Linked DNA regions of Homo sapiens. The protein of the gene in region 4 interacts with the protein of the main gene of each other region in a biochemical or structural test. Each region holds a gene or a part of one and is shown on either strand. Other genes may lie near its edges. The genes, in order: UBE2G2, PSMD4, UBE2L3 and PRKN.

Region 1 (8,321 bases), on a different chromosome or scaffold from region 4:
AGCACACCCTTGTGACAGCACTTAGGTCTCTTCAGGACCTCTGTTTCCTGGATCAGGGCTTCTCAGCAGGTGTTAGTGGTATTTTGAGTGAAATAATTTTTCCTTGGGTAGGCCTTGTTCTACCCAAGGTTGTGGGTTCATTAAACGGTTAATCGGTACATTAGTCCGTTCTTATACTGCCATAAAGATACTACCTGAGACTGGGTAATTATAAAGGAAAGAGGTTTAGTTGACTCACAGTTCTGCATAACTGACGAGGCCTCAGGAAACTTATAGTCATGGCAGAAAGGGAAACAGACCTCTTCTCAAGGCGGTAGGAGAGAGAAGAGCAAGCCAAGGAAGAACTTGCCACACACTTATAGAACCATCATGTCTCCTGAGAACTCGCTATCACGAGAACAGCATGAGGGAAACTGCCCCCATGATCCAGTCACCTCCTACCAGGTTCCTCGCTCAACACTTTGGGGATTACAAGTCAAGGTGAGATTCGGGTAGGGACACAAAGCCAAACCATGTCATTTCTCCCCCTACCCCTCCCAAATCTCATGTTCCTTTCAAAACCATTCCATTTCAAAACAAATCATGCCTTCCCAGCAAGGCCCCCAAAGTCTTAACTCATTTCGTCATTAACTCAAAAGTCCAAGTCCAAAGTCTCATCTCTGACAAGGTAAGTCCCCTCTGCCTAGCAGCCTGTAAAATCAAAAGCAAGTTAGTTACTTTCAAGATACAATGGAAATACAGGCATTGGATAAATACTCCCATTACCAATGGAAGAAATTGGCCAAAACAAAGGGCTACAGGCCCCCATGCAAGTCCGAAATCCGGCTGGGCAGTCATTAAATCTTAAAGCTCAAAATGGTCTCCTTTGTGACCCCGTGTCTCACATCCAGGGCACACTGATACAGGGAGTGGCTTTCATGGTCTTGGGCAGCTCTGCCCCTGTGGCTTTGTAGGGTACAGCCCTCCCACACCCACCCCCTTCAGCTACTTTCATGGTGGGCATTGAGTGTCTTTGGCTTTTCTAGGTGCACAGTGCAAAGCTCTTGGTGGATCTACCGTTCTGGGGTCTGGAGGATGGTTGTTCTCTTCTCACAGCTCCACTAGGCAGTGCCCCAGTGGGGACTCTGGGAGCTCCAACCCCACATTTCCCTTCTGCAATGCCCTAGCAGATGTTCTCCATGAGGGCCCTGCCCCTGCAGCAGATTTCTGTCTGGACATCCAGGCGTTTCCCTACATCCTCTGAAATGTAGGTGAAGGTTCCCAAACGTCAGTTATTGAATTCTTTGCACCCACAGGCCCAACACCACGTGGAAGCTGCCAAGGCTTGGGGTTTGTACTCTCTGAAGCAACAGCCTGAGCTGTACCTTGGCCCTTTTTAGCCATGGCTGGAGCTGGAACAGCTGGGACACAGGGCACCAAGTACCAAGGCTGCACAGAGTAGCAGCGGGGCTGGGCCTGGCCCACAAAACCATTTTTCCCTCCTAGGCCTCCCTGCTTGTGATGGGAGGGGCTGCTGCCAAGATCTCTGACATGCTCTGGAGACATTTACCCCATTGTCTTGGCGATTAATATTTGGCTCCTTGTTACTTATTTGAATTTCTCTCCAGAAAATGGGTTTTTCTTTTTTATTGCACCGTCATGCTGCGAAGTTTTCAAACTTTTATTCCCTGCTTTCTTTTAAACACGAGTTCCAATTTCAGATCATCTCTCTCAAGTTCAAAGTTCCACAGATCTCTAGGGCAGGGGCAAAATCTCACCATTCTCTTTGTTGAAACATAGCAAGGGTGACCATTGCTCCAGTTCCCAAGAAGTTCCTCTTCTCTTTTTCAGACCACCTCAGCCTGGGCTTCATTGTCCATGTCACTATCAGCATTTTGGTCAAAAGCATTCAGCAAGTCTCTAGGAAGTTCCAGACTTTCCCACATCTTCCTTCTTCTAAGCCCTTCAAACTGTTCCAACCTCTGCCTACTACCCAGTTCTGAAGTTGCTTCCACATTTTCAGGTTATCTTTATAGCAGTACCCCTGGTACCAATTTACTGTATTCATCTGTTTTCACACTCCTATAAGAACTTCCCTGAGACTGGATAATTTATAAAGGAAAGAGGTTTAATTGACTCACAGTTCCACATGGCTAGGGAGGCCTCAGGAAACTTATCATGACAGAAGCCGAAGGGGAAGCAAGCACCTTCTTCACAAGGTGGCAAGAAAGAAGAGTGAAGGAGGAACTTTCGAACACTTATAAAACCACCAGATCTCATGAGAACTCACTGTCATGAGAACAGCATGGAGGAAATTGCCCCCATGATCCAGTCACCTTCCACTAGGTTCCTCCCTCAACACCTGGAGATTACAATTCAAGATGAAATTTGTGTGGGGACACAAAGCCAAACCATATCAATGGACATTTGGGTTGTTTCCAGTTTGGGGCTATTACGAATTTAGCTACTATGAACATTCACACAAAAGTCTATGGCAACATAAGACCCAGTAGAATTGCTGGGTCTTAGAGTCAATATATATGTAATTTTAGTGGAAATGGTCAAACTTCTTTCCCAAAGGGTAACCAAACCATTTTGCATTCCCATCAGTGGTGCATGAGAGATCTACTTGCTAAACTTGCCAGCACTTTAAGTCTTTAATTTTGGCCATTCTTTTGTGACTAAAGATACTGATAATGCTGAAGCTATTGAGCTGTATCTTATTGTGGTTTTAATTTGCATTACCCTTATGATTCACAATGTTGAGCATTTTCTCATGTGCTTATTAGCCATCTGTTTTAGTCAGTTCAGGCTGCTGTAAAAAAATACCAAAGACCAGGGAGCTTAAACAACAAACATTTATTGCTCCCAATTCTGGAGGCTGGGAAGTCTGGTGAGGGCTGTCTTCCTGGTTTGCAGATGACTGTCTTCTCCTTGTGCCCTTACATGGCCAGAGGCAAATCTCTCGTTTCTTCTTATAAAGGCACTAACTCCATTCATGAGAGTTCTGCCCTCCTGACCTAATCTCCTCCCAAAGGTCCCACCTCCCAATACCACATACATTAGGATTCAACATAGGAATTTTGGGGGGACGCAAGCGTTTGGACCACAGCATCATTCGTGTTGACTCTGACAGTGGCTCTTTTCAACTCTGCCTCCATTTTTCTTCTTACCTATTTTGATTTTTATATGTGGTGTGAGATGGGGAAAGTTTGATTTTTTTTTGTCTTAGAGATGAGCATCATTCATGGAAAAGACTGCCCTTTGCCTCTGGGCCATAGCTCTGTGTTCCCTCGAGTCAGGGTCTCTGTTGGTACAGGTATGCTTCTGGGCTTTCTCTTGTGCCCCATTGTTCAATTTAACTTTGAGCCAGTGCTACGTTGCCTTAATTTCCATAGCTCTGTAAGGAAGGCTTGGTAACTCATAGATGAAGCTTTCTGTTTATTCTTTTTTTTTTTTTTTTTTTTTGAGACAGAGTCTTGCTCTGTCACCCAGGCTGGAGTGCAGTGGCGCGATCTCGGCTCACTGCAACCTCCGCCTCCTGGGTTCAAGTGATCCTCCTGCCTCAGCCTCCCAAGTAGCTGGGACTACAGGTGCATGCCACCATGCCCGGCTAATTTTTCTATTTTTGGTAGAGATGGGATTTCGCCATGTTGGCCAGGCTGGTCTCGAACTCCTGACCTGAGGTGATCCACCCGCCTCGGCCTCCCAAAGTGCTGGGATTACAGGCGTGAGCCACCGCGCCTGGCCCTCTGTTTATTCTTTTTAAAGATAGTGTCTTGGCTATTCTGGATTGTTTGCATTTTTATATATCTTTTAGAAAGATATATATATGCCTCATATTCAGCAACTGTGCCAAACTCACTTTTACTAATTATCTTTAGATTCTTTTGGGCTTTCCTGTATATATGGACATAGCATCTGTGAATAATGAGTTTTATTTCTTTTTCAGTCCTTATACCTTATATTTATTTGGCAAGGATTTATTAATTTTCTGTCTCTTCAAAGAACCACCTTTTGGTTTCATTGATTTTTTTTTTTCTGTATGTTTGCTTACTGTTTTATTAATTTCCCCAGTCTCACTCTGGTTGCCCACTGGACTCCAGCCTGGGCAACCAGAGTGAGACCCTGTCTCAAAACTAAGCAACAAAGTAACCAGCAGGAACAGTTTGGAAAGACAGTGTACCCCTTATGTTTGCTTTTGCATTTGTAAAAAGAAAAAGAAAAAGAAAAGTCTATGTTTTGTTGGTATAAAGAACTATTTGGGCCGGCGCGGTGGCTCATGCCTGTAATCCCAGCACTTTGGGAGGCCGAGGCTGGCGGATCACGAGGTCAGGAGATCTAGACCATCCTGGCTAACACGGTGAAACCCCGTCTCTACTAAAAATACAAAAAATTAGCTGGGCGTGGTGGTGGGCGCCTGTAGTCCCAGCTACTTGGGAGGCTGAGGCAGGTGAATGGCATGAACCTGGGAGGTGGAGCTTGCAGTGAGCTGAGATCACACCACTGCACTTCAGCCTGGGTGATAGAGTGAGACTCCGTCTCAAAAAAAAACAAAAAAAAAACAAAAAAACTTTGTGTAGTTGTTATCAGAACCGTTATTGTACTAGGTATTCACTTTGGGCAAACAGAATTTTCACTTGTTAATATGCATATTCTATGGTTTATAGGCTTATATATTTTGTAAAGGTGTTTTGTTAAAATGACAATGTAACATTTATTCTGTTTGGTAATGGTTTTACTTATTAATTTTATAGAATTAACACTGAATCCTCCGGAAGGAATTGTAGCAGGTAAGGTACCAAAGTTAACTTCCTTATAATTTACTTTTAATTGCCAAAGTTCCTTCAAAGTTAAAATGTTGTGAAATTTTTTCTCACCCTACAGGCCCCATGAATGAAGAGAACTTTTTTGAATGGGAGGCATTGATCATGTAAGTTAATTTTAGGTGTACTAGTTTTTAGGGCTTTGCTGGAAGTCAGATGTAAGAATCACATCAGCAGTGTGACTGTGTCCAAAAGCATCAGCTGGAAAAAAGACTGAGTTCTCCAGTAATGCCCAGCTCTCGTCTAGGCTGCTGGTCTGAAAGCAGAGAACCTGAGCATTGATCCAAAAGAAATGAGTGTTTCCTTAGAGCCAGTCAAAGGTTTAGTTATAATTATGTAATATATGTATTATATATTTGAGAGTTTTAAGGTGGTAATTTTGGAATGTTGTATGATCGTGGTTAAAATAACCTCAAATGGCGTAGGTGGCTTTGGCTTCCAGAAGTAGCCCCTTCAGGTGTGAAATTTTGACGAGAAAAGGGTCCTCAAAGATGTGTCTGACCACACCAGGCATGTTAGCGCAGCCTTGCCTGCCCTGCCTTTGGGCCAGGACTTCTTTTTCTTCTCCTTTCCTCCCAGTTCGTATCTTCGTGTGCTGCATCTCCTTTTTCTGTTGCCTTGTCTGGACTTGTTGGCCTTGTGTTCTTTCCGACCCAAGACATGGCTTAGTAAGTGAGCAGTGTGGTTCTGGGATTCGTGGCATTTAACTTAGGGTGACGTTGCTTGGAAAGAGAAACACATGGACCCCTGATTTTAGAGTGTTCTATGGCCTTGACTCACTTTGCTTTTTCTTCTTTCTACCTTAGATGTGCAATTTTTGGCCATTCTTAGTGTATTTTCAGCAAAGTGAGGTTAAATAAAATTTAGGAAGTTGAAATTTGTAATCAGTCTCTGTTTTCTTTCTTTTCTTTTTCTTTCTTTCTTTTTTTTTTTTGAGATGGAGTTTCGCCCTTGTTGCCCAGGCTGGAGTGCGGTGGCACAACCTTGGCTCACTGCAACTCCTGCCCCTTGGGTTCAAGCGATTCTCCTGCCTCAGCCTCCCTAGTAGCTGGGATTACAGGTACCCACCACCGTGCCTGGCTAATTTTTGTATTTTTAGTAGAGACAGGGTTTCCCCATGTTGGCCAGGCTGGTCTCGAACTTCTGACCTCAGGTGTTCCGCCTGCCTTGGCCTCCCAGAGTGCTGGGATAACAGGTGTGAGCCACCGCGCCAAGCCCAGTCTTTGTTATCTCATTAGTGAGGTCTTTTAATTTGCAGCAAGGTCTTGGGTTGGATTTTGTTGCATTGAGAAGTGCTCTAGAGGGCAAGGACCGGAAAAGTGAGGGCTGTGAAACAAGTGTGGGCTCTGGCTTGAAGTGATCTTAAGCTTCATGATGCTTTTGGAATTCGCCAGTTGCTTGGATCACATTAATTCTTAATGCTCTATGGGTTGGTCTGAGAAACAGATTGCAGCTAAGTGTTGTCTGTGGAGGTTAAATTGATATGAAAATTAGTATTTTGGATAAACAAAATGTTTTTAAAAAATCATCAAACGCTATTCAGATGGTACAGCACGCCTGCCATTTCCTGATCATTTGTAATATCCTAATTGCTTGGGCCTATGGCACATGTTTTTTCGGTGTCTGAAGGTTTCTGGAATCTGTGTTTGTGTGTAATGTGGCCCCCAAGGCAGTTATGAGATGGATGGCGAGTCCCACAGTCTGGGCTGTCCTCATTAGTGGACTGTGCGGCTGTATACTTGTATCGGGGCAGCTCTTTTTATTTCTGTAGAAGCAGGAGATCATATACATGAACTGATGTGTAACCTGCTTGTTTCATGTGTTAATGCAGGCGCACCTGCACTCATGCCAGCGGGGCAGCACGCCTGCTGCAGGGGCCCAGAGTGGCGGGAGGCCTGTCTGTGTGTAGAGGTTGAAGGCGCCTGTCGTGTCTGCAGTTATTTGTGGGGTGTTGGCTCCTCCGTAGGCCTATTTGGAAGCTCATTAAAGGAACAGTTGAGCCGTCCAGTGTGGTTTTAAAAAAATGTTCATTGTTAAAAATCGATTAGGGTAACTATTACCAATTTTAAATAAACAGTGTAAAATTAAACCAATATTTTGAAAACCTGTCTTAAAAAGTAATTAGAACTATTTTTAGGTAGAGCACTTCTGTGTTTGAACAAGGCTTTTTGCATTAGTTTGGAATTCCCCTGCTTGAAGATCCTAGTGAGTTTGTGGGTTTTGGTCCTGTTCCAGACCCTTCACAAACAAGAGGCCGTTTACAAGTGCACTTAAAATGCCTATTAGGGAATTAACTGTCCTCCCATCGATTTGTCTCACCCTGCTATTTTGGCAGACATCTGGCCAAGTCTTTGCTCCTTGGTGATAAGTTTCTTCTTTTTCTCTTTATTCTTTGATGGCTTCCAGGGCCGCCTCTCTACCCTAGTATTTCTAAAACCCGTGCTTGCCTCACAGAAGTCGAACGGCTGTTGGTTTTTGCTGTTGTGCTTGCCTTAAGGGCCAGTGAAGAAAATGTCATTTTAGATATCTAAGCAACAAACACTAAGTGCCTTTGATATGTTAGGGCCCTTGTCTGAAGATACAGACATGTCAAAGATGCACTGAAATCTTTACCTTGGAAGACCAGGGTTGAGGGATTAGGATGGAGAATAGAACAGATTAGTGAATGAGAGGACTAAATAATGAGAGTCCGCAGGCTGTGTCTTTAAACACCGGGAATAACTCTGCTGACCCTGCCACGCTCATGGTGGAGTCTGAGCCTGCAATCAAATCGAGCGTGGCTGGGATGGCGGCACACCAGGGGATGTGGCCACCGTGGCTGTGGGTGCTAGCATGGCCTGCTGCTCTTGGCCCAGTCACTTTGCCTCTCTTTGACTTATTTGGATCAAAACAGAGAGGTTTATCAGCATCTTCTAGACAGATGGTTACAGGTCTTGCCCAGCTCTAGGGTCCATGGCCCGTGACCCCATTGCCACTAAGCCACGGTGACGGGGGTGTAGCTGCAGAGAGGGTGGGTGCCCTCTTTCATTGATGCACTTATGTGGGACAGAAGGAGTCCTAGACAGCTGTTCATCCCCAGTGGCCGGACAAGGCGTGGAGTCCCTTGGCGCTTGCTGTCCTCTGTGTCCTGCCCCAGCATTCCCAAATCAGCTGGCTTGGTGACCTTCTTGTCTGGTTCATGCCTGACTGCTGTCACCTCCCCAGACCAGTGGTTCTAGAGGCTGTGGTGAAATAAGAAGGACCTTCCTTTACTGAATGGTGTGTTTGGGGCCCAGTTGGTGGATGGATGCTCCCAGGTTCTCCAGCTGGCTCATGGCAGCCAGCTTGAGGGCTCCCAGGCTGCCGCGGCTTCTACCAGGAGCCCTTCTCACACTGGGGGCCAGTGTCCGGGGCACAGCAGCCTCCCTTTATGTCCAGGTTTCTTGTTGACTGAAGACTGTCACAGGGCATCTCTTGGCAGTATTATGCCTTGCTGAAATAAACCCGAGATAATAAAATAGGTGTTTATAATTTGTA
Region 2 (8,321 bases), on a different chromosome or scaffold from region 4:
TTTTGTATTTTTAGTAAAGATGGGGTTTGGCCATGTGGCCAGGCTGGTCTTGAACTCCTGGCCTCAAGTGATCTGCCCACCTCAGCCTCCCAAAGTGCTGGAATTACAGGTGTGAGCCACCATGCTCGGCAGTATGGCCATTTTAATGATATTGATTCTTCCTATTCATGAGCATGAGATGTTTTTCCACTTGTTTATATCTTCTTTGATTTATTTGAGCGGTATTTTGTAATTCTCATTGTAGAGCTCTTTCATCTCCCTGGTTAGTTGTATTCCTAGGTTTGTTTGTCTATTTGTTTGTTTTTTTGAGATGGAGTCTCGCTTTTGTTGCCCAGGCTGGAGTGCAGTGGCGCCATCTCGGCTCACTGCAACCTCCACCTCCCGGGTTCAAATGATTCTCCTGTCTCAGCCTCCCGAGTAGCTGGGATTACAGGTGCGTGCCACCATGCCCGGGTAATTTTTTTCTGTATTTTTAGTAGAGATGAGGTTTCATCATATTGGTCAGGCTGGTCTCGAACACTTGACCTCAGGTGATCCACCAGCCTCAGCCTCCCAAAGTGCTGAGATTACAGGCATGAGCCACAACACCCAGCCAAGGTATTTTATTCTTTTTGTGGCAGTATGCACATAGTTCTTGGCCCCATGTAGTGCATCATGGGGAACCTGCTGTTGATGTGACTGCCTTGCACATGTGCCATTGTATTACCCTTTTCGAGTGTTTTTTTTTTTTTTTTTTTTTTTGGGGGAGACAGGGTCTCATTCTGTCACCCAGGCTGGAGTGCAGTAGTGTGATCTTGGCTCACTGCAGCCTCGACCTCCGGGGCTCAAGTGATCCTCCTGCCTCAGCCTCCTGAATAGCTGGGACTACAGGCACTTACCACCATGCCCAGCTATTTTTTGTATTTTTTGTAGAGATGGGGTTTTGTCATATTGATTAGGCTGGTCTCGAACTCTTGGGCTCAAGAGAGCCTCCCTCCTTGGACTCCCTAAGTGCTGGGATTACAGGCATGAACCATCACACCCAGCCTGTATTCTCTTTTAAAATAAAGGTTTTGGCGGTAATCCCAGCTACTTAGGAGGCTGAGGCAGGAGAAGGGGTTAAGCCCAGGAGTTTGAGGTTACAGTGAGCTATGATTTCACCACTGGCCTCCAGCCTGGGTGACAGAGCAAGATCCTGTCTCAAAAAAATATGTGAAATGGCCAGGTGCGGTGGCTTACACCTGTAATCCCAGCACTTTGAGAGGTTGAGGTGGGCGGATCATCAGAGGTCAGGAGCTCAAGACCAACCTGGCCAACATAGTGAAACCCCGTCTCTACTAAAAATACAAAAATTAGCTGGCATGGTGGTGCACGCCTGTGGTCCCAGCTACCCGGGAAGCTGAAGTGGGAAGATCTATTGAGCCTGGGAGGTTGAGGCTACAGTGAGCTGTGACTGCGCTTGAACCTGTGCCTGCGCTTGAACCTGTGCCTGAATACTACCCTAGACAGGTTGAGTATTCCCTATCTGAAATGGCTAGGACCATAAGTGTTTCAGATTTTGGATTTTTGTCAGATTTTAGAATATGTACATTATACTTAACCAGCGGAGTATCCCTAATCTGGAAGTCTGAAGTGCTCCAGTGATAATTTCCTTTGAACATCATGTCAGCACTCAAAACTCAAAAACTTTCTGATTTGGGGCATTTCGGATCTCAAGAGTTTCTGATTAAGTGTACTTAACCTATATATTCCCTTTTCTGTTAATACTTGTTTTCCAGTACCTTCTTAATTACTTCTCTTTACCATTTTTGGTTTATTGCCAAACAAAGCATACTAAAGAAAAAAAAATTGCCCCAGGCTCACATTTTGCTTGCCAATAGAAATGAGATGTCTTGGCTAGGTGCCGTGGCTCACACCTGTAATCCCAGCACTTTGAGAGGCCAAGGCAGGAGGACTACATGAGTCTAGGAGTTTGTGACTAGCCTGGGCAACAAAGTGAGACTCCATCTCTATAAAATAAAAAATAAATAAAAAATGTGGTTTTTTTTGGTAGAGACTGGGTCTTCCTGTGTTGCCCAGGCTGTTCTCCAACTCCTGGGCTCAAGCGATTCTCCCTTCTCGGCCTCCCAAAGTGCTGGGATTACAGACGTGAGCCACCATGCCCAGCCTAAAAAATAGATAAAATTCTAAAAAGAAGAAATGAGGGCCAAGTGTGGTGGCTCATGCCTGTAATCCCAGCACTTTGGTAGATTGAGGTGGGTGGATCACCTGAGGTTGGGAGTTTGAGACCAACCTGACCAACATGGAGGAACCCCGTCTCTACTAAAAATACAAAATTAGCCGGGTATGGTGGTTGCATGCCTGTTATCCCAGCTACTTAGGAGGCTGAGGGAGGAGAATTGCTTGAACCTGGTAGGCGGAGGTTGCGGTGAGCCGAGATCGAGCCATTGCACTCCAGCCTGGGCAACAAGAGCGAAACTCTGTCTCAAAAAAAAAAAAAAGAAAGAAATGAGGTATCTCATCTAAGGCACTGCTTCCGTCCATTAGCACAGGTAGAACCTTAACTATTAGAGCTCTCAGGGACCTCAGAGGTCATCAAGAATTGATCCTTACAGGAGCTTATATAACTGCATCACTTACCTGCCTTCTTCTGGTCTTTGGGAAACTCGAGATTATATTTCACATTAGCTGGATACTTTTAGATCATGAAAAGTTGCAGGGATCTAAGAGGTGAGACTTCAGATCCACAAAACCTCATTTTTACCGTTCAGTTCAGCTGTCAAAGCTGTTAAGCATTTAATGAGATGATTGCATTGTACTTTTCTGCACTCAGTGCTGCCAAGTGTGTGTTATTTTATAGACCTCTTTTTTTTGAGGCAGTGGCACGATCTTGGCTCAATGCAGCCTCCACCTCTCAGGTTCAGGTGATTCTCCTGCCTCAGCCACCCGAATAGCTGGGATTACAGGTGCCTGCCACCACGCCCGGCTAACTTTTATATTTTTTAGTAGAGATAGGGTTTCACCATGTTTGCCAGGCTGGTCTCAAACTCCTGAGCTCAAGAGATCTGCCCACCTCGGCCCCCCAAAGTGCTGGGATTACAGTTGTGAGCCACCATGCCTGGCCCTATTTTATAGATTTTTTTTTTTTTTTTTGATGGAGTCTCACTCTGTCACCCAGGCTGGAGTGCAGTGGCGTGATCTTGACTCACTGCAACCTCGGCCTCCCGGGTTCAAGCAATTCTCCTGCCTCAACCTCCTGAGTAGCTAGGACTACAAGTGTGCGCCACCATACCTGGCTAATTATTGTATTTTTAGTAGAGACGGGGTTTCACAATGTTAGCCAACACTGGTCTCTAACTCCTGACTTCAGGTGATACACCCGCCTCCACCTCCCAAAGTGCTGGGATGCACTTGGGAGGCATAAGTCACTGTGCCCAGCCTATTTTATAGATTTTTTTTTTCTTTTTCTTTTTTTTTTTTTTTTTTTGAGACGAAGTTTTGCTCTTGTTGCCCAGGCTGGAGTACAATGGTGTGATCACCACAACCTCCGTCTCCTGGGTTCAGGCGATTCTTCTGCCTCAGCCTCCCGAGTAGCTGGGATTACAGGCATGTGCCACCACGCCCAGCTAATTTTCTACTTTTAGTAGAGACAGGGTTTCTCCATGTTGGTCAGGCTGGTCTTGAACTCCTGACCTCAGGTGATCCACCTGCCTCGGCCTCCCAAAGTGCTGGGATTACAGACATGAGCCACCGCGCCCAGCTATAGATATTTTTAAGTTACCTTCTTCATTTCCTATATTTGGATTACTGCCATTTAATGGCAGACTTAGAGTATTTATCCATGACAAAGCTTAGTAGCACTTAAGTGCAGCTTGTAAGAAATTGCTGTGGTTCATCAGTAGATCACCACCTTTGGTGCTCATCAGAATCATTTTGTAAGGATTTAAAAATTTTTTCGGCTGGGCACCAGGTGGCTCACACCTGTTATCCCAGCACTTGGGGAGGTGGAGGCAGGAGGATCTCTTGAGCTCAGAAGTTCAAGACCAGCTTGGGCAACATAGCTAGATCCCTGTCTCTACAAAAAAAATTTAAAAGGTAGCTGCGTGGTGGCTTGCACCTATAGTCCCAGCTACTTGGGAGGCTGAGGTGAGAGGATCACTTGAGCCCAGGAGGTGGAAGCTGCAGTGAGCCATTAGTGCACCACTCTACTCCAGCCTGAGTGACAGAGCAAGACCCTATCTCAAAAAAAAAAAAAAAAAAATTCCTCATTGGTTATTCTGAGTCAATAAATGTGGGCTAAGGCTTGATCATCTGTATATTTAAAAAAGAAAAAAAGCTACAGGTGATGCTATGAAGACTGCTGCTATAGGGGGCCTCTGGAACTGGAGAGAAGGTTTTGGAAAACTTCTACATTTCTTCTCTCTTGTCCTTCAACCCTAATCTGACAGTGTGGACAACAGTGAGTATATGCGGAATGGAGACTTCTTACCCACCAGGCTGCAGGCCCAGCAGGATGCTGTCAACATAGTTTGTCATTCAAAGACCCGCAGCAACCCTGAGAACAACGTGGGCCTTATCACACTGGCTAAGTATGGGGGACAGAGGAGGAGGGGACTCAGTAGGTGGGTGGTTGTTACATGCTACTCTTCTTTAGATTCCATGAAGCTGCTTTTGCCCATCACCTTCCTAGACTGCCTTCTGCACTATTTAGTGTAAATGTCAATAGCAACTTGTTTTTTGTATTAACCTGTATTTAATGTAGTACGGAAGCTAAATCTCCTGGGGTGAAATTTCTGTTTCTTTTTATTGTTTGTTGGGCAGGGCTAGGGTAGGGGGTGAAATTTCATAATATATTTTAAAGTCAGTGAAAAGTGATTTTGGGCTGGGCACAGTGGCTCATGTCTGTAATCCCAAGAGTTTGAGACCAGCCTGGGCAACAGGACAAAACCCTGTCTCTACTAAAAATACAAAAATTAGCCAGGCATGGTGGTGGCTACCTGTAATACCAGCTACTCAGGAGGCTGAGGCAGGAGAATCGCTTGAACTCGGGAGGCGGAGGTTGCAGTGAGCCAAGATCACACCACTGCACACCAGCTTGGGCGACAGAATGAGACTCCATTTCAAAAAAAAAGAAAAAAGTAATTTTTGGATCAGAGCCCCTGGGCATATATCACTCATCCTTTTACCCTGAAAGTGTTTTGTTTTAGGAACTGATAATTCTTAAATGAGTAGCCTCCCACTCCAGTGTACATACTGTTAGCTAGGAGAATGGGTCTGGAGGTGGAGAGGACAGGAGAGATACAAATTAGCATCGTTATTTTGGTGGATTCTCAGGGCCCTGTGAGCCTTTAAAAGGAGTTAGGGGAAAATATTTGGAAGTAGAGGGCAGCTTTCTTACAAAGCCAGCCACTTAATTATTTCTGTGCTTGGTTTCCATTAAATACTAGATGTTTGATTGAGAAGAATAGAGGCCAAGCACAGTGGCTCACGCCTGTAATCCCTGCATTCTGGGAGGCCAAGGCAGACGGATCACTTGAGGTCAGGATTTCGAGACCAGCCTGACCAACATGGCAAAACCCCGTCTCTACTAAAAATACAAAAATTAGCCGGGCGTGGTGGTGTAGATCTGTAATCCCAGCTACTCAGGAGGCTGATGCACGAGAATTACTTGAACCCGGGAGGCGGAGGTTGCAGTGAGCTGAGATTCGCCACTGCACGCCAGCCTGGGTGACAGAGCGAGACTCTGTCTCAAAAAATAAAAAAGAAGAATAGAGATTACAATTAGAATAGAAATAATGGTTATTATCCAGGTCTTTAAAGAAAAGTCAGACACAGGCCAGGTGCGGTGGCTCACGCCTGTAATCCCAGCACTTTGGAAGGCCAAGGTGGGCGGATTACGAGGTCAGGAGATCGAGACCATCCTGGCTAACACAGTGAAACCCCGTCTCTACTAAAAAAAATACAAAAAATTAGCCAGGCGTGGTAGTGGGTGCCCGTAGTCCCAGCTACTTGGGAGTCTGAGGCAGGAGAATGGCGTGAACCCGGGAGGCGGAGCTTGCAGTGACCCGAGATCACGCCACGCACTCCAGCCTGGGTGACAGAGTGAGACTCCGTCTAAAAAATAAATAAATAAAAGTTAGACACAGTTTAGAGGTACTTGTGCTGACCTGAATTCACTGAAATGCTTTTCCTACATCCCAGTGACTGTGAAGTGCTGACCACACTCACCCCAGACACTGGCCGTATCCTGTCCAAGCTACATACTGTCCAACCCAAGGGCAAGATCACCTTCTGCACGGGCATCCGCGTGGCCCATGTGAGTCCTACTGGGTTCCCTGGACCTTTCCTCCCTGCTCTGAGGTCCTGCCTCCATCATACTCATTTCTCCCCTGGAATCCTGAGCTAGGACCAGAGCAAGAGAAAGCTAACTTGGAGTAGAAAGGATATGGGGGATGAATCCCAGGGTAGTTGAGGGTTGTGAAGGGAAAAATCCCTAGAATTGAGAATTAAGGCTGGGCGTGGTAGTTCATGCCTGTAATCCCATCACTTTGGGAGGCCAGGGGAGGAGGATTGCTGAAGGCTAGCAGTTCAAGACCAGCCTGGGCACATAGGGAGACCCTGTTTCTCTAAAAAAAAAAAAAAAAAGGCCGGGCGCGGTGGCTCACACCTGTAATCCCAGCACTTTGGGAGGCTAACACGGGCAGATCACCTGACGTCACGAGTTCGAGACCAATCTGGCCAACGTGGTGAAACCCCATCTCTACTGAAAATATAAAAATTAGCCAGTACTAGGAAGGCTGAGGCAGGATAATCGCTGGAACCCGGGAGGTGGAGGTTGCAGTGAACTGAGATCACGCCACTGCACTCCAGACTGGGCGACAGAGCGAGACTCCATCTCAAAAAAAAAAAAAGAGAGAAAGAGAATTAACCTCCCTTCTTTATGCACAGAGAGTCATAGCAAAAAGGGAGGAGGTGGGGGTGTTAAATCTTGTGTGAACGTGATGGTAGATGGTGTACTTCAGGTACAAAGAAACTGTAAGAAAAAGGGAACCGAGTGACAGAGGAAAGAGCTGAGTGATTCCTCTGGTTAACTCTGAGAACTTCCTCTCCCTTTACAAGCTGGCTCTGAAGCACCGACAAGGCAAGAATCACAAGATGCGCATCATTGCCTTTGTGGGAAGCCCAGTGGAGGACAATGAGAAGGATGTGAGTCCAAGTGGCAGCTGGGGAATGTGGGGAGCCCATGTTTGGGACTGAGGTCTTCCAGCCCTCAGGAGAACCTGGCAGAGGCATCAGGCTCATCACTTTGGGGAAAGGTGAATGTGGAGAATTCAGTGATTCTGTTGGAGGACCTTGGGGAGGTCAATAGATTTCTGTATGCTTTTATGCGGCGGGTCCTTTCCCCCCCTCGAGTATGGAACAGATTTCTTGATTTTTCTCCCCTTCTTCCCAGCTGGTGAAACTGGCTAAACGCCTCAAGAAGGAGAAAGTAAATGTTGACATTATCAATTTTGGGGAAGAGGTGAGTAGGGACTGATTGGAGGGCATTGACTTAATTTGGTCATAAACAGAATGGTCCTTAACCCTGAGGAGTGCGGGTACTGTGGCAGAGTAGTGCAGAAATGGGAAAGAACAGGGAGCAAGGCCTGAAGAAGGGCATCATGTGTTCTTTCCTCCCCAGGAGGTGAACACAGAAAAGCTGACAGCCTTTGTAAACACGTTGAATGGCAAAGATGGAACCGGTTCTCATCTGGTGACAGTGCCTCCTGGGCCCAGTTTGGCTGATGCTCTCATCAGTTCTCCGATTTTGGCTGGTGAAGGTGGTGCCATGCTGGGTCTTGGTGCCAGTGACTTTGAATTTGGAGTAGATCCCAGTGCTGATCCTGAGCTGGCCTTGGTGAGCAAATGTTGACCCCAGGTAGAGTCCAAAGGTCCCTCTTTGTTCTCTTCTGGCACACACATCACAGAGCTTCTATCAGGCTGGATAGTCCTAGACACTACCAATCACTCATTTTCCAAGACCTCCTTTTGCCGCCTCTTCCCTATAATGCTGTCTGATCTCTAGGGGCACCAGTGTCAGATGCTTTCTTGTTCACTTCTGATGAAAACCGAGGCTTCTCCCAAGTCCTTACTTTTTAATCCCGTACCACTGCTTATCCCTCCAGCTTCTTCTCTGTGTGATAAACCAGAAGCTGCCCCTTTATGTTCCTTTCCCACACCCCAACTGACTTTCCCAGCTCCCTGTAGGAGTGAGGGCAGGGGAGCCCTGATTATGCCCTGCCCTTCACCAGGCCCTTCGTGTATCTATGGAAGAGCAGCGGCAGCGGCAGGAGGAGGAGGCC
Region 3 (6,142 bases), on a different chromosome or scaffold from region 4:
GGTTTCTAAAATGCTAATGCGGTAGTAATTCTCCTGTTACAGGGCCATTTCTAATCATGGGAAAGGAAGGGGAGCCACCTATTTGTGCTCTTAGGCGACTGTGGCTCAATTTCCAGCCCTGAAGTCAAGAACAGCCAGGAAAAGGGAGCAGTCTCACACCGAGGGTGGTGTGCACTGAAATACACTGTGGCCAGTCAGCCAAGGGTGGGCTTCGTTTATTAAATAAATAAATAAATGTTTATTAAATAAAAATATACCTCCAGGGCCTGCTGCCTCTAGAGGTACAGGTGGCTTGTACAGGGAGGTGATACCACCTACCCCTGAAGAGGCTTAGAGACTGAATTAGAGGCCACCCTGGCCTGCAGAGAGCTTTCCAGGCCCCTTGCCCCTGCTTGCTGTTCACAGTCCACCCTCCTTGCCCATCCACCCCCAACAAACGTGGAACCTGTCAGCATTGCATGCGCAATGCCCTCCTCGCCTCTGCCCCACTGCTTCACCTCTACCCACTGTGGTCACAGGAGCCCTCTCTTTCCCATTCTCACCAGGCACAGTAAAAAGCAGAGGTTAGGCAGGTGGGTTTTGGACACCAGGCCAGGAGTACTTTGTGCTGTGGCCCTCACTTAATGTGTGCTGTTGAATGATTATGCCTTTGCATATGACTCAGCCAGCATCAGCATTTTGTTTTATTTATTTACTTTTGAGACAGAGTCTCGCTCTGTTGCCCAAGCTAGAGTGCAGTGGCACGATCTCGGCTCACTGCAACTGCCGTCTCCCGGGTTCAAGCGATTCTCCTGCCTCAGCCTCCTGAGTAGCTGGGACTCTAGGCATGGGCCACCATGCCTGGCTAATTTTTGTATTTTTAGTAGAGACGGGGTTTCACCATGTTGCCCAGGCTGGTCTTGAGCTCCTGACCTCAGGTGATCTGCCTGGCTAGCATTTGCATTTTAATCCATTTCTTGTAATGCTGAATGAACAATATGAGCCCTTAATAAAGGAATTGACCAGGTGCAGTGGCTTCATGCCTGTCATCCTAGCACTTTTGGGAGGATGAGGCGGTAGGATCACTCAAGCCCAGGAGTTTGAGACCAGCCTGGGCAACATAGTGAGACCCCATCTCTACAAAAAACTAGGCCAGGAGCAGTGGCTAACACCCGTAATCCCAACTACTCTCAAGGCCAAGGTGGGAGGATTGTTTGAGCCCAGGAGATAAGACTGCAGTGAGCTGTGATTGCACCACTGTACTCTAGCCTAGGTTAAAAAAAAAAATTAGCTGGACGTGATGGCATGTGCTTGTAGTCTCAGCTACTCAGGAAGCTGAGGCAGGAGGATCATTTACACCCAGGAGTTTGAGGGTACCGTGCAGTAAAGTATGATTGAGCCACTGCACTCCAGTCTGAGTGACAGCAAGACTGTCTAAAAAAAATAAGAAGGAATTTGTGGCATCAGCAGTTCGGAGAAGAGGGGCACTGTTTTACAGTGGGAAGGAACATTCTGAGGGTGCTGGTCCTGACAGGGTCAGGGGGCAACTGTGGCAAAGTATGTGAGGAGGTGTGGGTAGCAGCTGCTTCTGATTCCCCACTATCCTTCCACCCTGGGGCACGTCTGGGCTACGGCACCTAGGGGGAGTACTGTGGCACCCATCAGAGCCATCAGCGTGACATCTGCCTGTGGTCTTGACAATGTGATGCGATGGCGGTTGTCAGCTTCCCATTGGCTGGCCCCAGTGACCCTTTCTAGAGGGTTCAGAAACTCCTAAGGGTCTTCCAGAGTTGGGTCATTGCGCATTGACAAGTGCAGCGCCATCACATACCCTTCTCTCTAGTGCCCACTCAGTCACCTTAACCGAAACTTCCCTGAGCCGAGCATGGTGCTGGGTGCTGGGCTGATGCAGGGAAGTTCTACCCGGTCCTGCCCTGAAGAAAGTGACCCTGTGTGCATGCATGAGAGTGAGCAGTCAGTTCAATACTAGGCCTCCTATCTCCAGAGTACACAAGAGGACTGGATTAGCCGGGCATGGTGGTGCACGACTGTAGTCCTGGCTACTTGGGGGACTGAGGCTGGAGGATTGCTTGAGGTCAACCCAGGAGGTTGAGGCTGCAGTGAGCCAAGATGGTGCCACTGCACTGCAGCCTAGGTGACAGAGTGAGACCCTGTCCCTCCTCCCCAACCCCCCGCCAAGAAAAAAGGGCTGGGAGTGACTGAGGGCTAAGACCTCCCCAGGTGTTAGGTCAGGAAGGCTTCCTGGAGGCGGAAGCACATCACTGTGAACAATTATCCACTGTAGTGTTAGCTATTTGTTGTCCATCAGTGTCTTCTAATCACAGAGGAAAGATGAGTTTTCTGGCAGTCAGAATTTTGGATAAATAGGAGGCAGCTTTGGCTTAAAAGCACATTAGCTGTAAATCAGTTGTAAAGCCAGAGTTTTGTTCCCGGATTAGCTGCCTCTTGCCTGTGCCATTTCTGAGACTGTGTTAACCCCCCATGCCTTGTCCTTCTCTTGGCAGTAATCCAGTCCCTCATAGCACTGGTGAATGACCCCCAGCCTGAGCACCCGCTTCGGGCTGACCTAGCTGAAGAATACTCTAAGGACCGTAAAAAATTCTGTAAGAATGCTGAAGAGTTTACAAAGAAATATGGGGAAAAGCGACCTGTGGACTAAAATCTGCCACGATTGGTTCCAGCAAGTGTGAGCAGAGACCCCGTGCAGTGCATTCAGACACCCCGCAAAGCAGGACTCTGTGGAAATTGACACGTGCCACCGCCTGGCGTTCGCTTGTGGCAGTTACTAACTTTCTACAGTTTTCTTAATCAAAAGTGGTCTAGGTAACCTGTAAAGAAAGGATTAAAAATTTAAGATGTTCTAGTTCTGCTCTCTTTGTTTTAAAAATCACTGCTTCAATCTACTTCAAAAGAATGGTGTTTCTTTTCTTGTCCAATTTTATCCAAAATCTTCAAGTTACATTTAACCCATAAGGTTTAAAAAAAAGGAAAAAAAACGGTTGTGGTTCCCTTTCTTCCCTACCCTTGCCACTCCCACTTTCTGGCACCGAGTTTATTTTTCACTTACTTACTTCCCCAGACCCCGGGCTCGCCTCCACAAAGGAGAAGAGACTGCCCTGGCGGTCCTGGTGGCTTTTCTTAGCATGTGTGGCACTGTTGCCCAGTGTGGGAGTTGGTTTAAATTCTCCTGACTCCAGTTTATAACATCCTTTTAAAAAATTTAAAAACAAACAGCCACACCCCTCCTCCAGTCCTTCTCCTCAGTTCTTGTGTGAAACTCCAGCTGATGTTACCACAGTAACATCAGTTAATTGGGCAAGCCCTGATGTCAGTGTGTGTAACTGACCTCTGGCCTGGCCTGCACAGAGAAGCCCTATAATCACAGGTCTGTGGTGGCCCCGAAATGGGGGGCCTGCTAGTCAGGAGGATGCTGTGCACACTGTGTGTGATGAATCTCGCCAGAAAGGCTCCTGAGGTCCCAGGTTGGCACTTCTCCCTGCAGCCATTGTAGAAGATCTGCTGGTCCTTGCAGGCAAAGCTACAGCCAGAATGTCCGTTTGAAACTCCTAGCTCATCTGTCACCGAGCTTCATCCGAATGTGCCACGGAGCTTGCTCTCCACTTCCTCCGTGCAGTGGCCCTGCCACAGCCCTCCCTCGGCACACTTTGACCCTTTGTAGGATTGGAATTAGCAGGACTCGGCTATTTAAAGCACCAGTCTGGGGTCGCCTGGGCCCCTGCTGACCCCCTCCTCCAGAGCAGCCAGCCCAGCCCGGGAACAAGACGGACTTCCTCTCCCTTCGGACTCACAGCCTTTGCAGAGTCAAGCTCCACTTGAAGCTCACTCAGTAATATCCTTTCAATGTGTTTTATATTGTTTTGACTGCCTTTTTTTGTAGAAATAAAAATTGACCTTAGAATTTATCGTCAGATAAACTTGTAAAGATTTGAATATTAATGTCTTTTCAAGGCAAATGGGATTGTCCCCGCACTAGTAGAGAATCCATGTCGCTCTGACACCCCAAGGAAGCCGACGATCCAAATGCCGTGTGTCACCAACCCCGCTTCTGCCACTGGCGGCTTCCCTTCTTGGCTCTTGGGGGGGACTAGATCCTGTGGAGAAGATGACTTAAACTTTGCTTTTTGTTTTAATTTTAATTCTATAACTTGAGATCTTTCCGGGGCCTACAGGCGTGTAAGACAGCTTGGTCTGGTCTGTGCAGAAGTGGGGAGTGATGGGCAGGTTCGGCAGCCTAACATTGTTCAGGCGCATGGCCCCTGCGGTGTGTACACGAACTCGGCTTCTTTTGTCCTAGGTACGCCAAGGGCAGGTTTCTGGAGACTCCCTTGTGCCCGGGATGGCAAGGGCACCGGGCTGGCGTTTCCACATCTGTCTTCATTAGCAGAAAAGTGATGATGGATTTTATTTCACTCACACTCCAGTTTGTAATAAAATGCCAAATTCTGTCAGCTATCCAAACAAGCCACCATTTGTTCTTGTTGCTTCTCTGGATCCAGAAATGTTGCCATTCTTGGAAACTGTCCCATTGCTTCGTATTTCTGCCAACGTAGCTCTGCCTGCCTGTCAACCCCTCACTGCACTCTGCTCATCACGGGAGGATACCTGTGTGCCGGCAGCCCCTCAGGGACTCTCAGCCCTGGCACTGGCACCCCAGGGTTGGCCCCGTCAGCAGAGGCTTGGCTTTCGAGCCAGTGGGTGTCTCTCCTTTGGGCCTGGGCGGCTTGCTCCTGCCAGCCATGCCTTCAGGGTAGGCTCTGAGCAAGCTGGCGAACAGCCCTGGCTGCTCCAAAACCAAAAAGCTGGGTCCTCTGGAGGAGGGGCGAGCTGTGGAGCAGCCACCCACTGCTGCCCCAAGCTCACTCAGGAATTCACACCCGCCTGGTTTCTTGAAGTGTGCTGGGTCCTTCCCTCTGCTCCCTACTCCCCACCACGGCAGAGAATAGGCTTTCTAAGATGCTGCGATCCCGTTCTGCTGCCCGTAATAAAAATGCTCTCAGACACTGGTTAGTCGTGTGGGTTTCTTCCTTCCTGGGAGCGGGCAGTGCCAGGGGCCTATGCTCTTGGAGATGGGAGGGCTGGCTGGGGCCCAGGTCCTGGGGCTTCTGATCTCTCTCCCCATTCCCAGCCTCTCCAAAAGAGGTACATAGAAGTGTTCCTGCCTCCCTAGAGGGAAGGAGATGAGGTATAATCAGCAAGAAAGCCGGAGACTTCAGACAGTCGGGGCCTGCAGAGGGCGCTCTTGGGCGTCTCGTTGAGGGGACAGGGACTAAAGTGTGGGTGCATCACTTACATGCGTGGGTCATCCTGGAGCCTCCTGGGAGTGTTAACAATCCATGTTTAGAAGAGGCAAACCTGCGGTCCCAAGAGGTCACAGAATTGATAAGGGTGTGCCTGTGGGTGGAGCTGGGCCATGTCCATGAATGGTGCCAGCCAGAAACACTCTGAGTCCCCAGTACAGCCCACTGCCAGGGTGCTGCGGCAGTGGTGCTAACTCAGCAAGGGCTCAGCCAGACCCAGGACTTTTTTGGCTAGGCCTTCCCTGCCTGGAATTTGACACCAGCTGAGACTAGGCCTGCACTGTTCAGCTGGATCTGCAGGTCTTGGGGAAGGAAACTTCTTGGGGTGTCATTTTACTAGCCTTTAACATACCTAGCACTTTACCCTCTGAGTCTCAGGAGAGCCCTGTGGCATCCTTATCCCTGCTTTTAAAGACAACCAAGACCCCTGGCCTGTTTTTGTTCACATTCTGACTGCAGAGCCTGTTGCATTCCACCATTTGGCATATTTCTTCCCACAGGGTCCCTCTGAGCCCAGAAACAGCCAGTTACCACCCTCCCCAGAGCCAGAGACCTTTAAGCCCCTCTGTCAACTTCCTCTTCCCTACAGCCACCAGCCACCATTTTTGGCCTTGTTCACTATTAATTGTTCAGCATGAAATAAGCATCCATTTCATCACTCCTGTACCCGCTGCAGCCTGACTTCTGTCACCTGCTGCCCCTTGCTGCTTCTCCTTTCATTTGGTGCCATCTAACCCAGCCCTGAAAGAAGCCAGAGCTGCTCTCAGCATTTCCCACCCTGTCCTGCCTGGCTCTTCCTTCTCTCTCTGCTTCCTGGATATGGC
Region 4 (8,321 bases):
CATTGCCAAGCAACCCAGATGTTCGTTTTCTAGGTTTGCCTGGGCACAGGCTTATCCTATAACCTTCTCTGTGGTGCCCAGGCAGCTGTAGTTCAGGCCTACTCAGGCTTTTTATGACCTTCGTTGTACTACTTAGATAAAACAGAATACTTGAAATCACTAGTTACAGAGAACAAGAGTCTATAAACTCATTCTGTAAAACAAAGGAAAATTTGTTTTTCTTCTCCCTGTGTTGAGGGAGTGCTGAGAGAGTCTCCAGAGCATATTAGATAATATTATCAAGACTTTTCCTGGGTCTAGGCTGTGCCTGTTGCTGCTTCTGGAACAAGTTAGCCTAAAACAGGAAAACTTATTTCTCTTTCTTTTTAATTTTATTGTTCTTTAATTTCCCGCCTCAACCTTACTGCGAATAATATTCTGCCACTTTATTTAAATCCTGGCTTAGTTTAAGGAGAAACGTAAAGATGGGTTTCCTGGTAGAATAGGAGTAAACAGGACTGACTGTGACCTCACTGCTAATGACATGTACCTTCCTTTTACTTTCTCAAAACCGAAGATTCCCTTATTGGCATGAGGACTGTTTCAAAAGTACTTACATTTCCCACCTGCATTGTGATTGATGTGTTGAATGCCCTGACCCAGGCAGCTACAGAAACATAATTTAATTGAAGTCGGTTAAAAATTGTGCCTTTGTGGAAAGTGTGGAGAAGGACTTCAAGATGATATAAAGCAGAATAGAAAAGCTTAAAAGAATTCAATTTAGAAAAATGTAATTTTTGGTACCTCTATTAAAAATATATTTTGACTTTTTTAAAAATGAGCAATTCTTTGTGTTTAAAATGGAATGTTAGTGGGGATATTTGTGGTATGTTCTAAATGTTCTGTAGAACTGGATTTAGGTATTTGAGTAACAGCAGATATTAGAGTGCATGGTTATATATACAACAATGTTGTCAGTATTGAAATACACATTCAGTGTCTTAGACTTTTAAGAAGATTTTTGATTGACAAAAACCATTCATTGGAACATAGTCTCTTCTATACCTTGTTTCACTTAGCATCTCTTTGAGAATTTACATATCTGCATGTCCAGATCCACTCCACAGCGATTCCTGCCTAGTCTTTTATAGGATACACTAATTATGAAAATATTTACCAATAAATAAGCACTCATTAGGTTTACAGACAACTGTTGTCAGAAGTGTTTGTGGCCATATCTTTTTACTTGCACATGTAAGCATAGATGTAAAATAAAAATCGTATGACAATTTGAGTTAAAGAGTTTGTAGATTTTACATTTTCCTAGGTATTTCAAAATTTTTCCAAAATAAGTTGCCCAATTTTACAAGCCTATCTAAAGCCTCCACTAATACAACATGGTAGTAAAGAGCTGCCCTGCCCCTCTGGGCTGAAAATTGCCAAAAGACGTCCTTCCTGAGACTGACTCAGCTTTCACTAGCAGAACGCCTCCTGGATCTCCGGTCCCCCACCTCTCTCTCACCCTAGGGGTAGTGCCTTTCAGTGTACAAGCTGCACAACTGTCCTTGGTGGCCCTGCCCTCCCTTTCAGTGTGTATAAGAGTGCCCATTTCCTCCCATGTGCCATCGAAGATTTTTTATTTTTGCCGTCTTGACAGATGAAAAACAGTATCTTTTAACTTTTCAAATTAATTTAGAAGAAAACTTCTCATTCTCATCTTATAGTGCGTTAGTTTTGCAAAAGCAGATCCAGTGATTCCAGCACCTGCTATGTACCCTTAACTGCTCTAGGTGCCAGGGAAACGAGGGAACACAACAGAAAAAGTCCCTTGCCATCAGGAATGTATATTCCGACTTCACCATTTGGCTACACATCTGCATATTTGTTTTCAAGCTTGTGTGCAGTGAATTTTAAAGTCTCAATTTATATTTCTAGTTGAATATACTGTGTACTGCTCTTTGCCCTGCCATTTTGATAAGTTGATGAAAACCAGCTCTATGCCTAAGTACCCCAAAGCTTCTGTTTATAATGAGGTAAAATTGTGTCAAAAATAGGCTCTACTAAAGTTTTGCATAGAAGATTTTATGTAATTATATAATAGTTCTTCCTTGGGTCCAAAGGCTCTAAAATGACCCTTTGCCCTTTACAATTTTGGCCCTATTTCTGAGGATGTTTTTGAAGTCTGCATTTTTTGAAACCTCATAGTTTCATTGCCTGAAAATGATACAATGAAAGTACTTTGTATTAAGATATGTAAATCCATTCCTACCTCCAAAGTTTCTTTGAAAAATGCAAAAAAAAGAGTTCTTACTTCGAAATGCTTCATATTCATGAAAGCAGTTTTAATGCAAAATACTTTATTCTGTTAGCTATTAGTTCTTTGATCAATGAAAATTGTTTCTTACCTGCTGTTTCTGCAGCCTTTAATTGTAGCCCAGTGCTTATTCAATGTTTCTGTTTTAATTTGCATTTAATGAGCTCATTTTAAATGTTTCTTCGTAGTAATCTGAATGGTTTCTCTCCCTCAATTTTGTAATATTAAAGAGACTCATGTGACAGTCGGCTGATTTATGTTGCAGCTCACCTCCCTGGCTTATTTACTTCATCCTGTAGCATAGAATCTTGGTTAAAAGGAATTACAGTAATAGGATTCTTTTCCCCCAGTAATTTCCTAATTACCTAGGACTCTTAACAGATTAACTCAAATGTCTGTTTTTCACCAAATAGAAACCTTTTTTCCTTGAATGAATAGGTATTTATGATTATTATTTCAGTGTCATTTCTTTATACCATATGTATTAGATGGTGCTGGGTAGGGATGGGTACACATAGGTTGTATTTGTCTATATATTGCCTGTGGGGAAGGTACATAGAAATGACCATTTCTTCCCAATAAGTTTGTGGCCTAGTTGGGCTGATTAGGCTTATATTGGTGGTATAGATTGCACCTTCACCACCACAGAAGAAGAGTAATTAGAAAGATGTATGTACATATCAGCACACACATACATGCCTGCAACACGTGATTTTTCATGTTTCTTTTGTTCATTTGATTCTCGTTGATCTGAATGCCCTTTCTTTCTGTTGAACATCTCAAAACTACTGTTCATCACTCAAGATCCAGTTCCAATGGCACCAACTTTATGTGAAATTTTCCATGTCACCTCTTACCCTCTTTTTAGTGTGAGGCAATTAGCACCTCCTTTAGAGTCAGCCAACATTTTAGTAACTACCCTTCATCAGGTCCTTGTTCATAGTCTAGAAGGGGTACAGAAAAGTAAAGATTTACAAACCTGAAAGGTGGGTATCATAATATAGGTTTATACAAGGAAGTACTGGAAAACTCAGCCTATAGAGCTTGGAAGATCCAGCTGTTTCCCAGTGGAGCCATTCCAGTTTTCCTGCAGGACAAGTAGGAGTTAACTAGGTGAAGGCGGCCTTCTAGACAGGCATGGAGGGGAGAGAAGAGAATAGAATGAAAGGTATCTGGTGAGGCTGCAGGCACACCAGATAAGCTTTGTCAAGGAGGTAGGTTTAAAGTTGGCGATAGGGAGGAGTCACTGAACCATTATCTACAAAAGAGCATTATGAACAGGTTGTATTTTAGAAAGATGTCTGTGGCAGTACTAGAAAGTTATGAAATAGAACGTTGTAGAAAATAGTTACACTAGTGCCAGCAAGTCCAGATAAAGTGTTAATAGAGGACTTCTCATGACCTTCATTGTACTTCTTAGATAAAACAGAATACTTGAAATCACTAGTTACGGAGAACAAGCGTTTATAAACTCACTCCATAAAACAAAGGAAAGAAGTCCAGATAATGTTTAATAGAGGACAGTCTTCGACTGAGAATGGCAGGGTAATTGTGCAGTAGGAGATGGCTTTTCTCAGGGTGTTGACATTGATTTGATATGTCATTACATCATCTCTGATTAAAGGCCATATTTCTTTTTAAAAAGTTCTTATTTTTGTAGAATAGATTAATGTCTCTTATTGACAGGTGTTTTATTTCATGTTACTAAAGCTTTATTTGTATTCCAAAAATAGTTTGTATCTCCTTCTTTGATATGTGGAACATGATGCTTAGGGTTCTATTTATAGTTTCTTCTCTGTGTGGAGAGAACAATGTCATCAGAGCTGTGGATATCGTGTCACCCAGAATAGTGCAGAATAGTTTCTTCCTCTTAGATATCTGCATGACTCATATACCTAGGCACATATTAAGACCATCTATGGGCCGGGCGCGGTGGCTCACGCCTGTAATCCCAGCACCTTGGGAGGCCGAGGCGGGTGGATCATGAGGTCAGGAGATCGAGACCATCCTGGCTAACAAGGTGAAACCCCGTCTCTACTAAAAATACAAAAAATTAGCCGGGCGCGGTGGCGGGCGCCTGTAGTCCCAGCTACTCGGGAGGCTGAGGCAGGAGAATGGCGTGAACCCGGGAAGCGGAGCTTGCAGTGAGCCGAGATTGCGCCACTGCAGTCCGCAGTCCGGCCTGGGCGACAGAGCGAGACTCCGTCTCAAAAAAAAAAAAAAAAAAAAAAAGACCATCTATGGACAGATGTGTGTATTTTTAAGAGTATTGATGGCTTCTTGATGATTCTCTCCAATTTACTTTTACTGTAAGACCTGAACAGAGGCCCCCATAAAGTTTCACATGAGAGCCCTTAACTTTGGAGGAGAGAATGTTCAATAGTTAGCAGCCTCACCCATTTTGCACATCTCTACTCCTACCCTCATCAAATGAGGGGGAAAATTGGTGATTAGGGAGTTAATATTGGTGTCCTGATTGAGACTTTTTATTATTTATTTACATAATTGTTGAATACGCCAGTTACTCCTATTGTGAGATATTTTTGGAGTTTCAGTGCATAAATAAGATCTTGTGATGAAGCCCTCTGTAACTGCGTAGTCATTTTTAAAGCTTATTGTACCCGCAGAGTAGATCCATTTTCCAGATCATGAAATGATAGGAAGTAGACACCTGAAACTTGCTCGTATTAATAAAATGGAGAAATAGGAAGGAACATTTGTAATATCTGTGTTTCTGAGGTCAACCTTTAGTTTTTTTTTTTTTTTTTTTTTTTTTGACATCTACCTGCACTCCCTCTTTTCTGTCCCCTCATTTTTTTCTTACCCACATTCCTTGATTTTCTCAGAAGCTGGAATTTAATATTTCATTCTTCAGCTCAAAGGAGCAGCTGTTGTCTGAACAACAGGTGAATTTCTTCCTTACTTGTTGCCACAGGGCTTGACTGTGGGTTGTAATGTTTCTGAGGGTTATCACAGGAGTGGCCTGACCGGAACAGACCAGGCTTCACCACAGCTCCTACTGGAGACATTCCCTAGATTGGGAATTGTCTGCAATGGAAATCTTTGTAGTCTCTGGCTCTGCATTTTCCTTCCAGGCAAATCCAGTCCTGATTACAATTTTTTTTTTCCATTGAAACAAAATTGAGGAATGATGAACTCTGGGCAGCTAGAGGATGGGGGCAAGTTAGGTTTGCTCCTTGGAGAATTAGACAGATTTAAGAATAATATTCCCTGTGCCCTGGGTCTTCTCTCCACCCTTGAAATTCGACCTCCTTTCTCCTGAAAGTCCTTTATAGCTCTCTGGTGAGTTCCCAGAGTGTGAGAGGTACAGATTTAAGCACAAGTGAGGTCATGTTCTCTGAGGTGCTGCTTCTCTGGGCTCCTGACCACAGACAAATGTAGACTGCATGATCCAGTTGATATTCACCAAATTTGTATAATTACATGTGACAATATATAAAGACGTTTTTACATGAATATGTCTGAATTCATAGGATCAGATGGGAAGTATATGTGTTTTATTGGGCAGTCAATTTAGACATAATCATATGATACAGAGAGTGATATTTCGTAGAGATCTGTTGTGGGCTTTCCACTCTTGTTCATTTAGGAATCTGTGAGATGCTCAACCTATGATTGGAATTGGAATTTCTTCCTTTTGTCCCTCTCTAGAGTTTTCTCCATTATTCATTGTCCCTTTCTCGTGTGTGTGTGTGTGTATGTGTGTGTGGCATCTGCCGTGTCTCACTACATGCAGAGCTTCTGACATAGGTATTGACTTTTATATCATCTTGATTTCAAAGAAGTCACCAAATAATCTTATTCTCAGTGTCTTGAGTTTTATACCAAGTCTCTGTGCTTGTTTTTTATGTTCTGGCAATTTCTGGGCATTGTTGCCCATTTTAGAACTCTATTTTGTTTTGTGGGGGACAGTTCTGGAATAAATTTTTTTTTTTTTGAGACGGAGTCTTGCTGTGTTGCCCAGGCTGGAGTGCAGTGGCGTGATCGCGGCTCACTGTAAGCTCCGCCTCCCAGGTTCACGCCATTCTCCTGCCTCAGCCTCCCGAGTAGCTGGGACTACAGGCGCCTGCCACCATGCCCAGCTAATTTTTTTTGTATTTTTAGTATAGACGGGGTATCACCGTGTTAGTCAGGATGGTCTCGATCTCCTGACCTCGTGATCCACCTGTCTCGGCCTCCCAAAGTGCTGAGATTACAGGCATGAGCCACCGCGCCTGGCCTCTGGAATAATTTTTAATGGAGATTCAACATCTAAGAAACTTTCATATTGGATCAAGACATAGTTGTCACAATTCTTAGTGTGTAAATTCATTAAAAGTCCCTTCTGGCTTTTGCAGCCAATTTAATCATCTTATGCTTAATAGAATGCAAGTTATACAGGTAAAGTCAGTCAGAGAGGGGATGGGGATGCTATTTGAGATGAAGTTCCTAGAAGTAATAAGATTTTTTTTGTCTTAAAACAGTGATGATAGGATGATTAAGTGATCTAAGATGGACAAATATGTGTGAGTTCTTAATAATTGGGAAAGATCTTTTTTAAAAAGTGTTAATGTGACCATTTAGTTACCATAACTGGAAACTAGATAGCATTAGGGGCCATTTGTATATGTAAAAATATCAGGAAGTATACCGGCAAATTATATCTTTGGGTTGTGGGATGTTTTCTTTTATTATGATTGTGTTTTTCAGATCTTCAGCGTTAAGCGTATAATGTTTTGGAAATACTGAAAAGCAATGTGTTATAAACACAATCTTCAGGACAAATGCATTGTGGTAATACATTTAAAACGGATTCTACTTTTGTGTCAAATTATGTCAGATAAATTTTCAATGGTAGCATACTATGCTCATGTTCTGGTCATAAAAGTAGTGTTTTCAGGAAAACAAACATTAGAACCATAATTTCACTTTCTTTAATATTATACACTATCGGGGCATGGCCAGATTACTGTATTAGTTTTTGTGTAGTTCCTGTTGTTGCTGTAACGAATTACCACAAGTTTAGTGACTTTTAAACACAAATTTATTTTCTTACAGTTCTGGAGGCCCAAAGTCCAAAATGACTTTTTTTTTTTTTTTTTTTTGAGACAAGATCTCCCTCTGTCACTCAGACTGGAGTGCAGTGGCACAAACACAGCTCACTGCAACCTTGAATTCCTGGGCTCAACTTCCCGAATAGCTGGGACTATAGGTGCATGCCAACCTGCCTGGCTAATTTTTTTATTTTTTATTTTTTGTAGAGACAGGATCTTGCTATGTTGCCCAGACTAGTCTTGAACTCTTGGGCTCAAGTCATCTTCCCACCTCAGTCTCCCAAAGTTGTCAGATTACAGGTGTGAGCCACTGTGCCCAGCCCCAAAGTGACTAAAAGGGACTAAAATCAAGGTGTTCGCTGGGCTAGCCCCTTCCATTAATAGAAGCTCCTGTGGAGACTCCTCTTTCACTTCTGGAGGCTGCTGGCATTCCTTGGCTCCTGGCCACATCACTCCAGTCTCTGCTGCTGTGGTCACATTGCCTTCTCCTTTACTGCCATCAAATCTTGCTCTGCCTTCCTCTTAAAAGAACACATGGGGTTACATTCAGGAGCCACCAGGATAGCCTCTTCGTCTCCAGATCCTTAATCACATCTGCAAAGTCCCTTTTGTCATATCGGGAAACAGTCGTAGGTTTCAGGGACAAGGAGGCATTATTCAGCCACCACAGTTACCAGTAATGCTTCACCATTTGAACGTATGGTTAGGTACTTCCTTATGAAGGAAGAATGACAGAGAGCTACAACTTGATTTTTGCCTATTGTGAGGTCACTTAAAGGTAATGCAGTAGTGTTACACATGAGGAGTCTGTGTGTGTGTGTGTGTGTGTGCGCGTGTGTGTGTGCGTGCGCGCGCGCGCAGGCGGGTAGGGTGTATGGACTAGTTGATGAAGCTAGCCAAGGACATAACTCACTTTTCAAGGTAGTTTTCTCAGGTGGCAAAAGAAGGTGTGAATATTCTCCTGGACTCCCATA

The links.
Region 1: the proteins of PRKN (region 4) and UBE2G2 form a complex in vitro, tested with the Homo sapiens proteins (6 studies listed by BioGRID).
Region 2: the proteins of PRKN (region 4) and PSMD4 form a complex in vitro, tested with the Homo sapiens proteins (6 studies listed by BioGRID, with this or other methods).
Region 3: the proteins of PRKN (region 4) and UBE2L3 form a complex in vitro, tested with the Homo sapiens proteins (52 studies listed by BioGRID and IntAct, with this or other methods).

What each region holds. Positions count from the first base shown.
Region 1 is NC_000021.9:44,784,511-44,792,831, reverse strand, and holds part of UBE2G2 (ubiquitin-conjugating enzyme E2 G2), read left to right. Parts: intron 1-4,736; coding exon 4,737-4,772; intron 4,773-4,866; coding exon 4,867-4,912; intron 4,913-8,321. UniProt on the Homo sapiens protein: Accepts ubiquitin from the E1 complex and catalyzes its covalent attachment to other proteins. In vitro catalyzes 'Lys-48'-linked polyubiquitination. Involved in endoplasmic reticulum-associated degradation (ERAD).
Region 2 is NC_000001.11:151,257,734-151,266,054, forward strand, and holds part of PSMD4 (26S proteasome non-ATPase regulatory subunit 4), read left to right. Parts: intron 1-4,427; coding exon 4,428-4,568; intron 4,569-6,180; coding exon 6,181-6,295; intron 6,296-7,098; coding exon 7,099-7,185; intron 7,186-7,432; coding exon 7,433-7,501; intron 7,502-7,660; coding exon 7,661-7,876; intron 7,877-8,270; coding exon 8,271-8,321. UniProt on the Homo sapiens protein: Component of the 26S proteasome, a multiprotein complex involved in the ATP-dependent degradation of ubiquitinated proteins.
Region 3 is NC_000022.11:21,619,011-21,625,152, forward strand, and holds the end of UBE2L3 (ubiquitin-conjugating enzyme E2 L3), read left to right. Parts: intron 1-2,504; coding exon 2,505-2,659; 3' UTR 2,660-5,024; downstream 5,025-6,142. UniProt on the Homo sapiens protein: Ubiquitin-conjugating enzyme E2 that specifically acts with HECT-type and RBR family E3 ubiquitin-protein ligases.
Region 4 is NC_000006.12:162,716,643-162,724,963, reverse strand, and holds part of PRKN (E3 ubiquitin-protein ligase parkin), read left to right. Parts: intron 1-8,321. UniProt on the Homo sapiens protein: Functions within a multiprotein E3 ubiquitin ligase complex, catalyzing the covalent attachment of ubiquitin moieties onto substrate proteins. Substrates include SYT11 and VDAC1.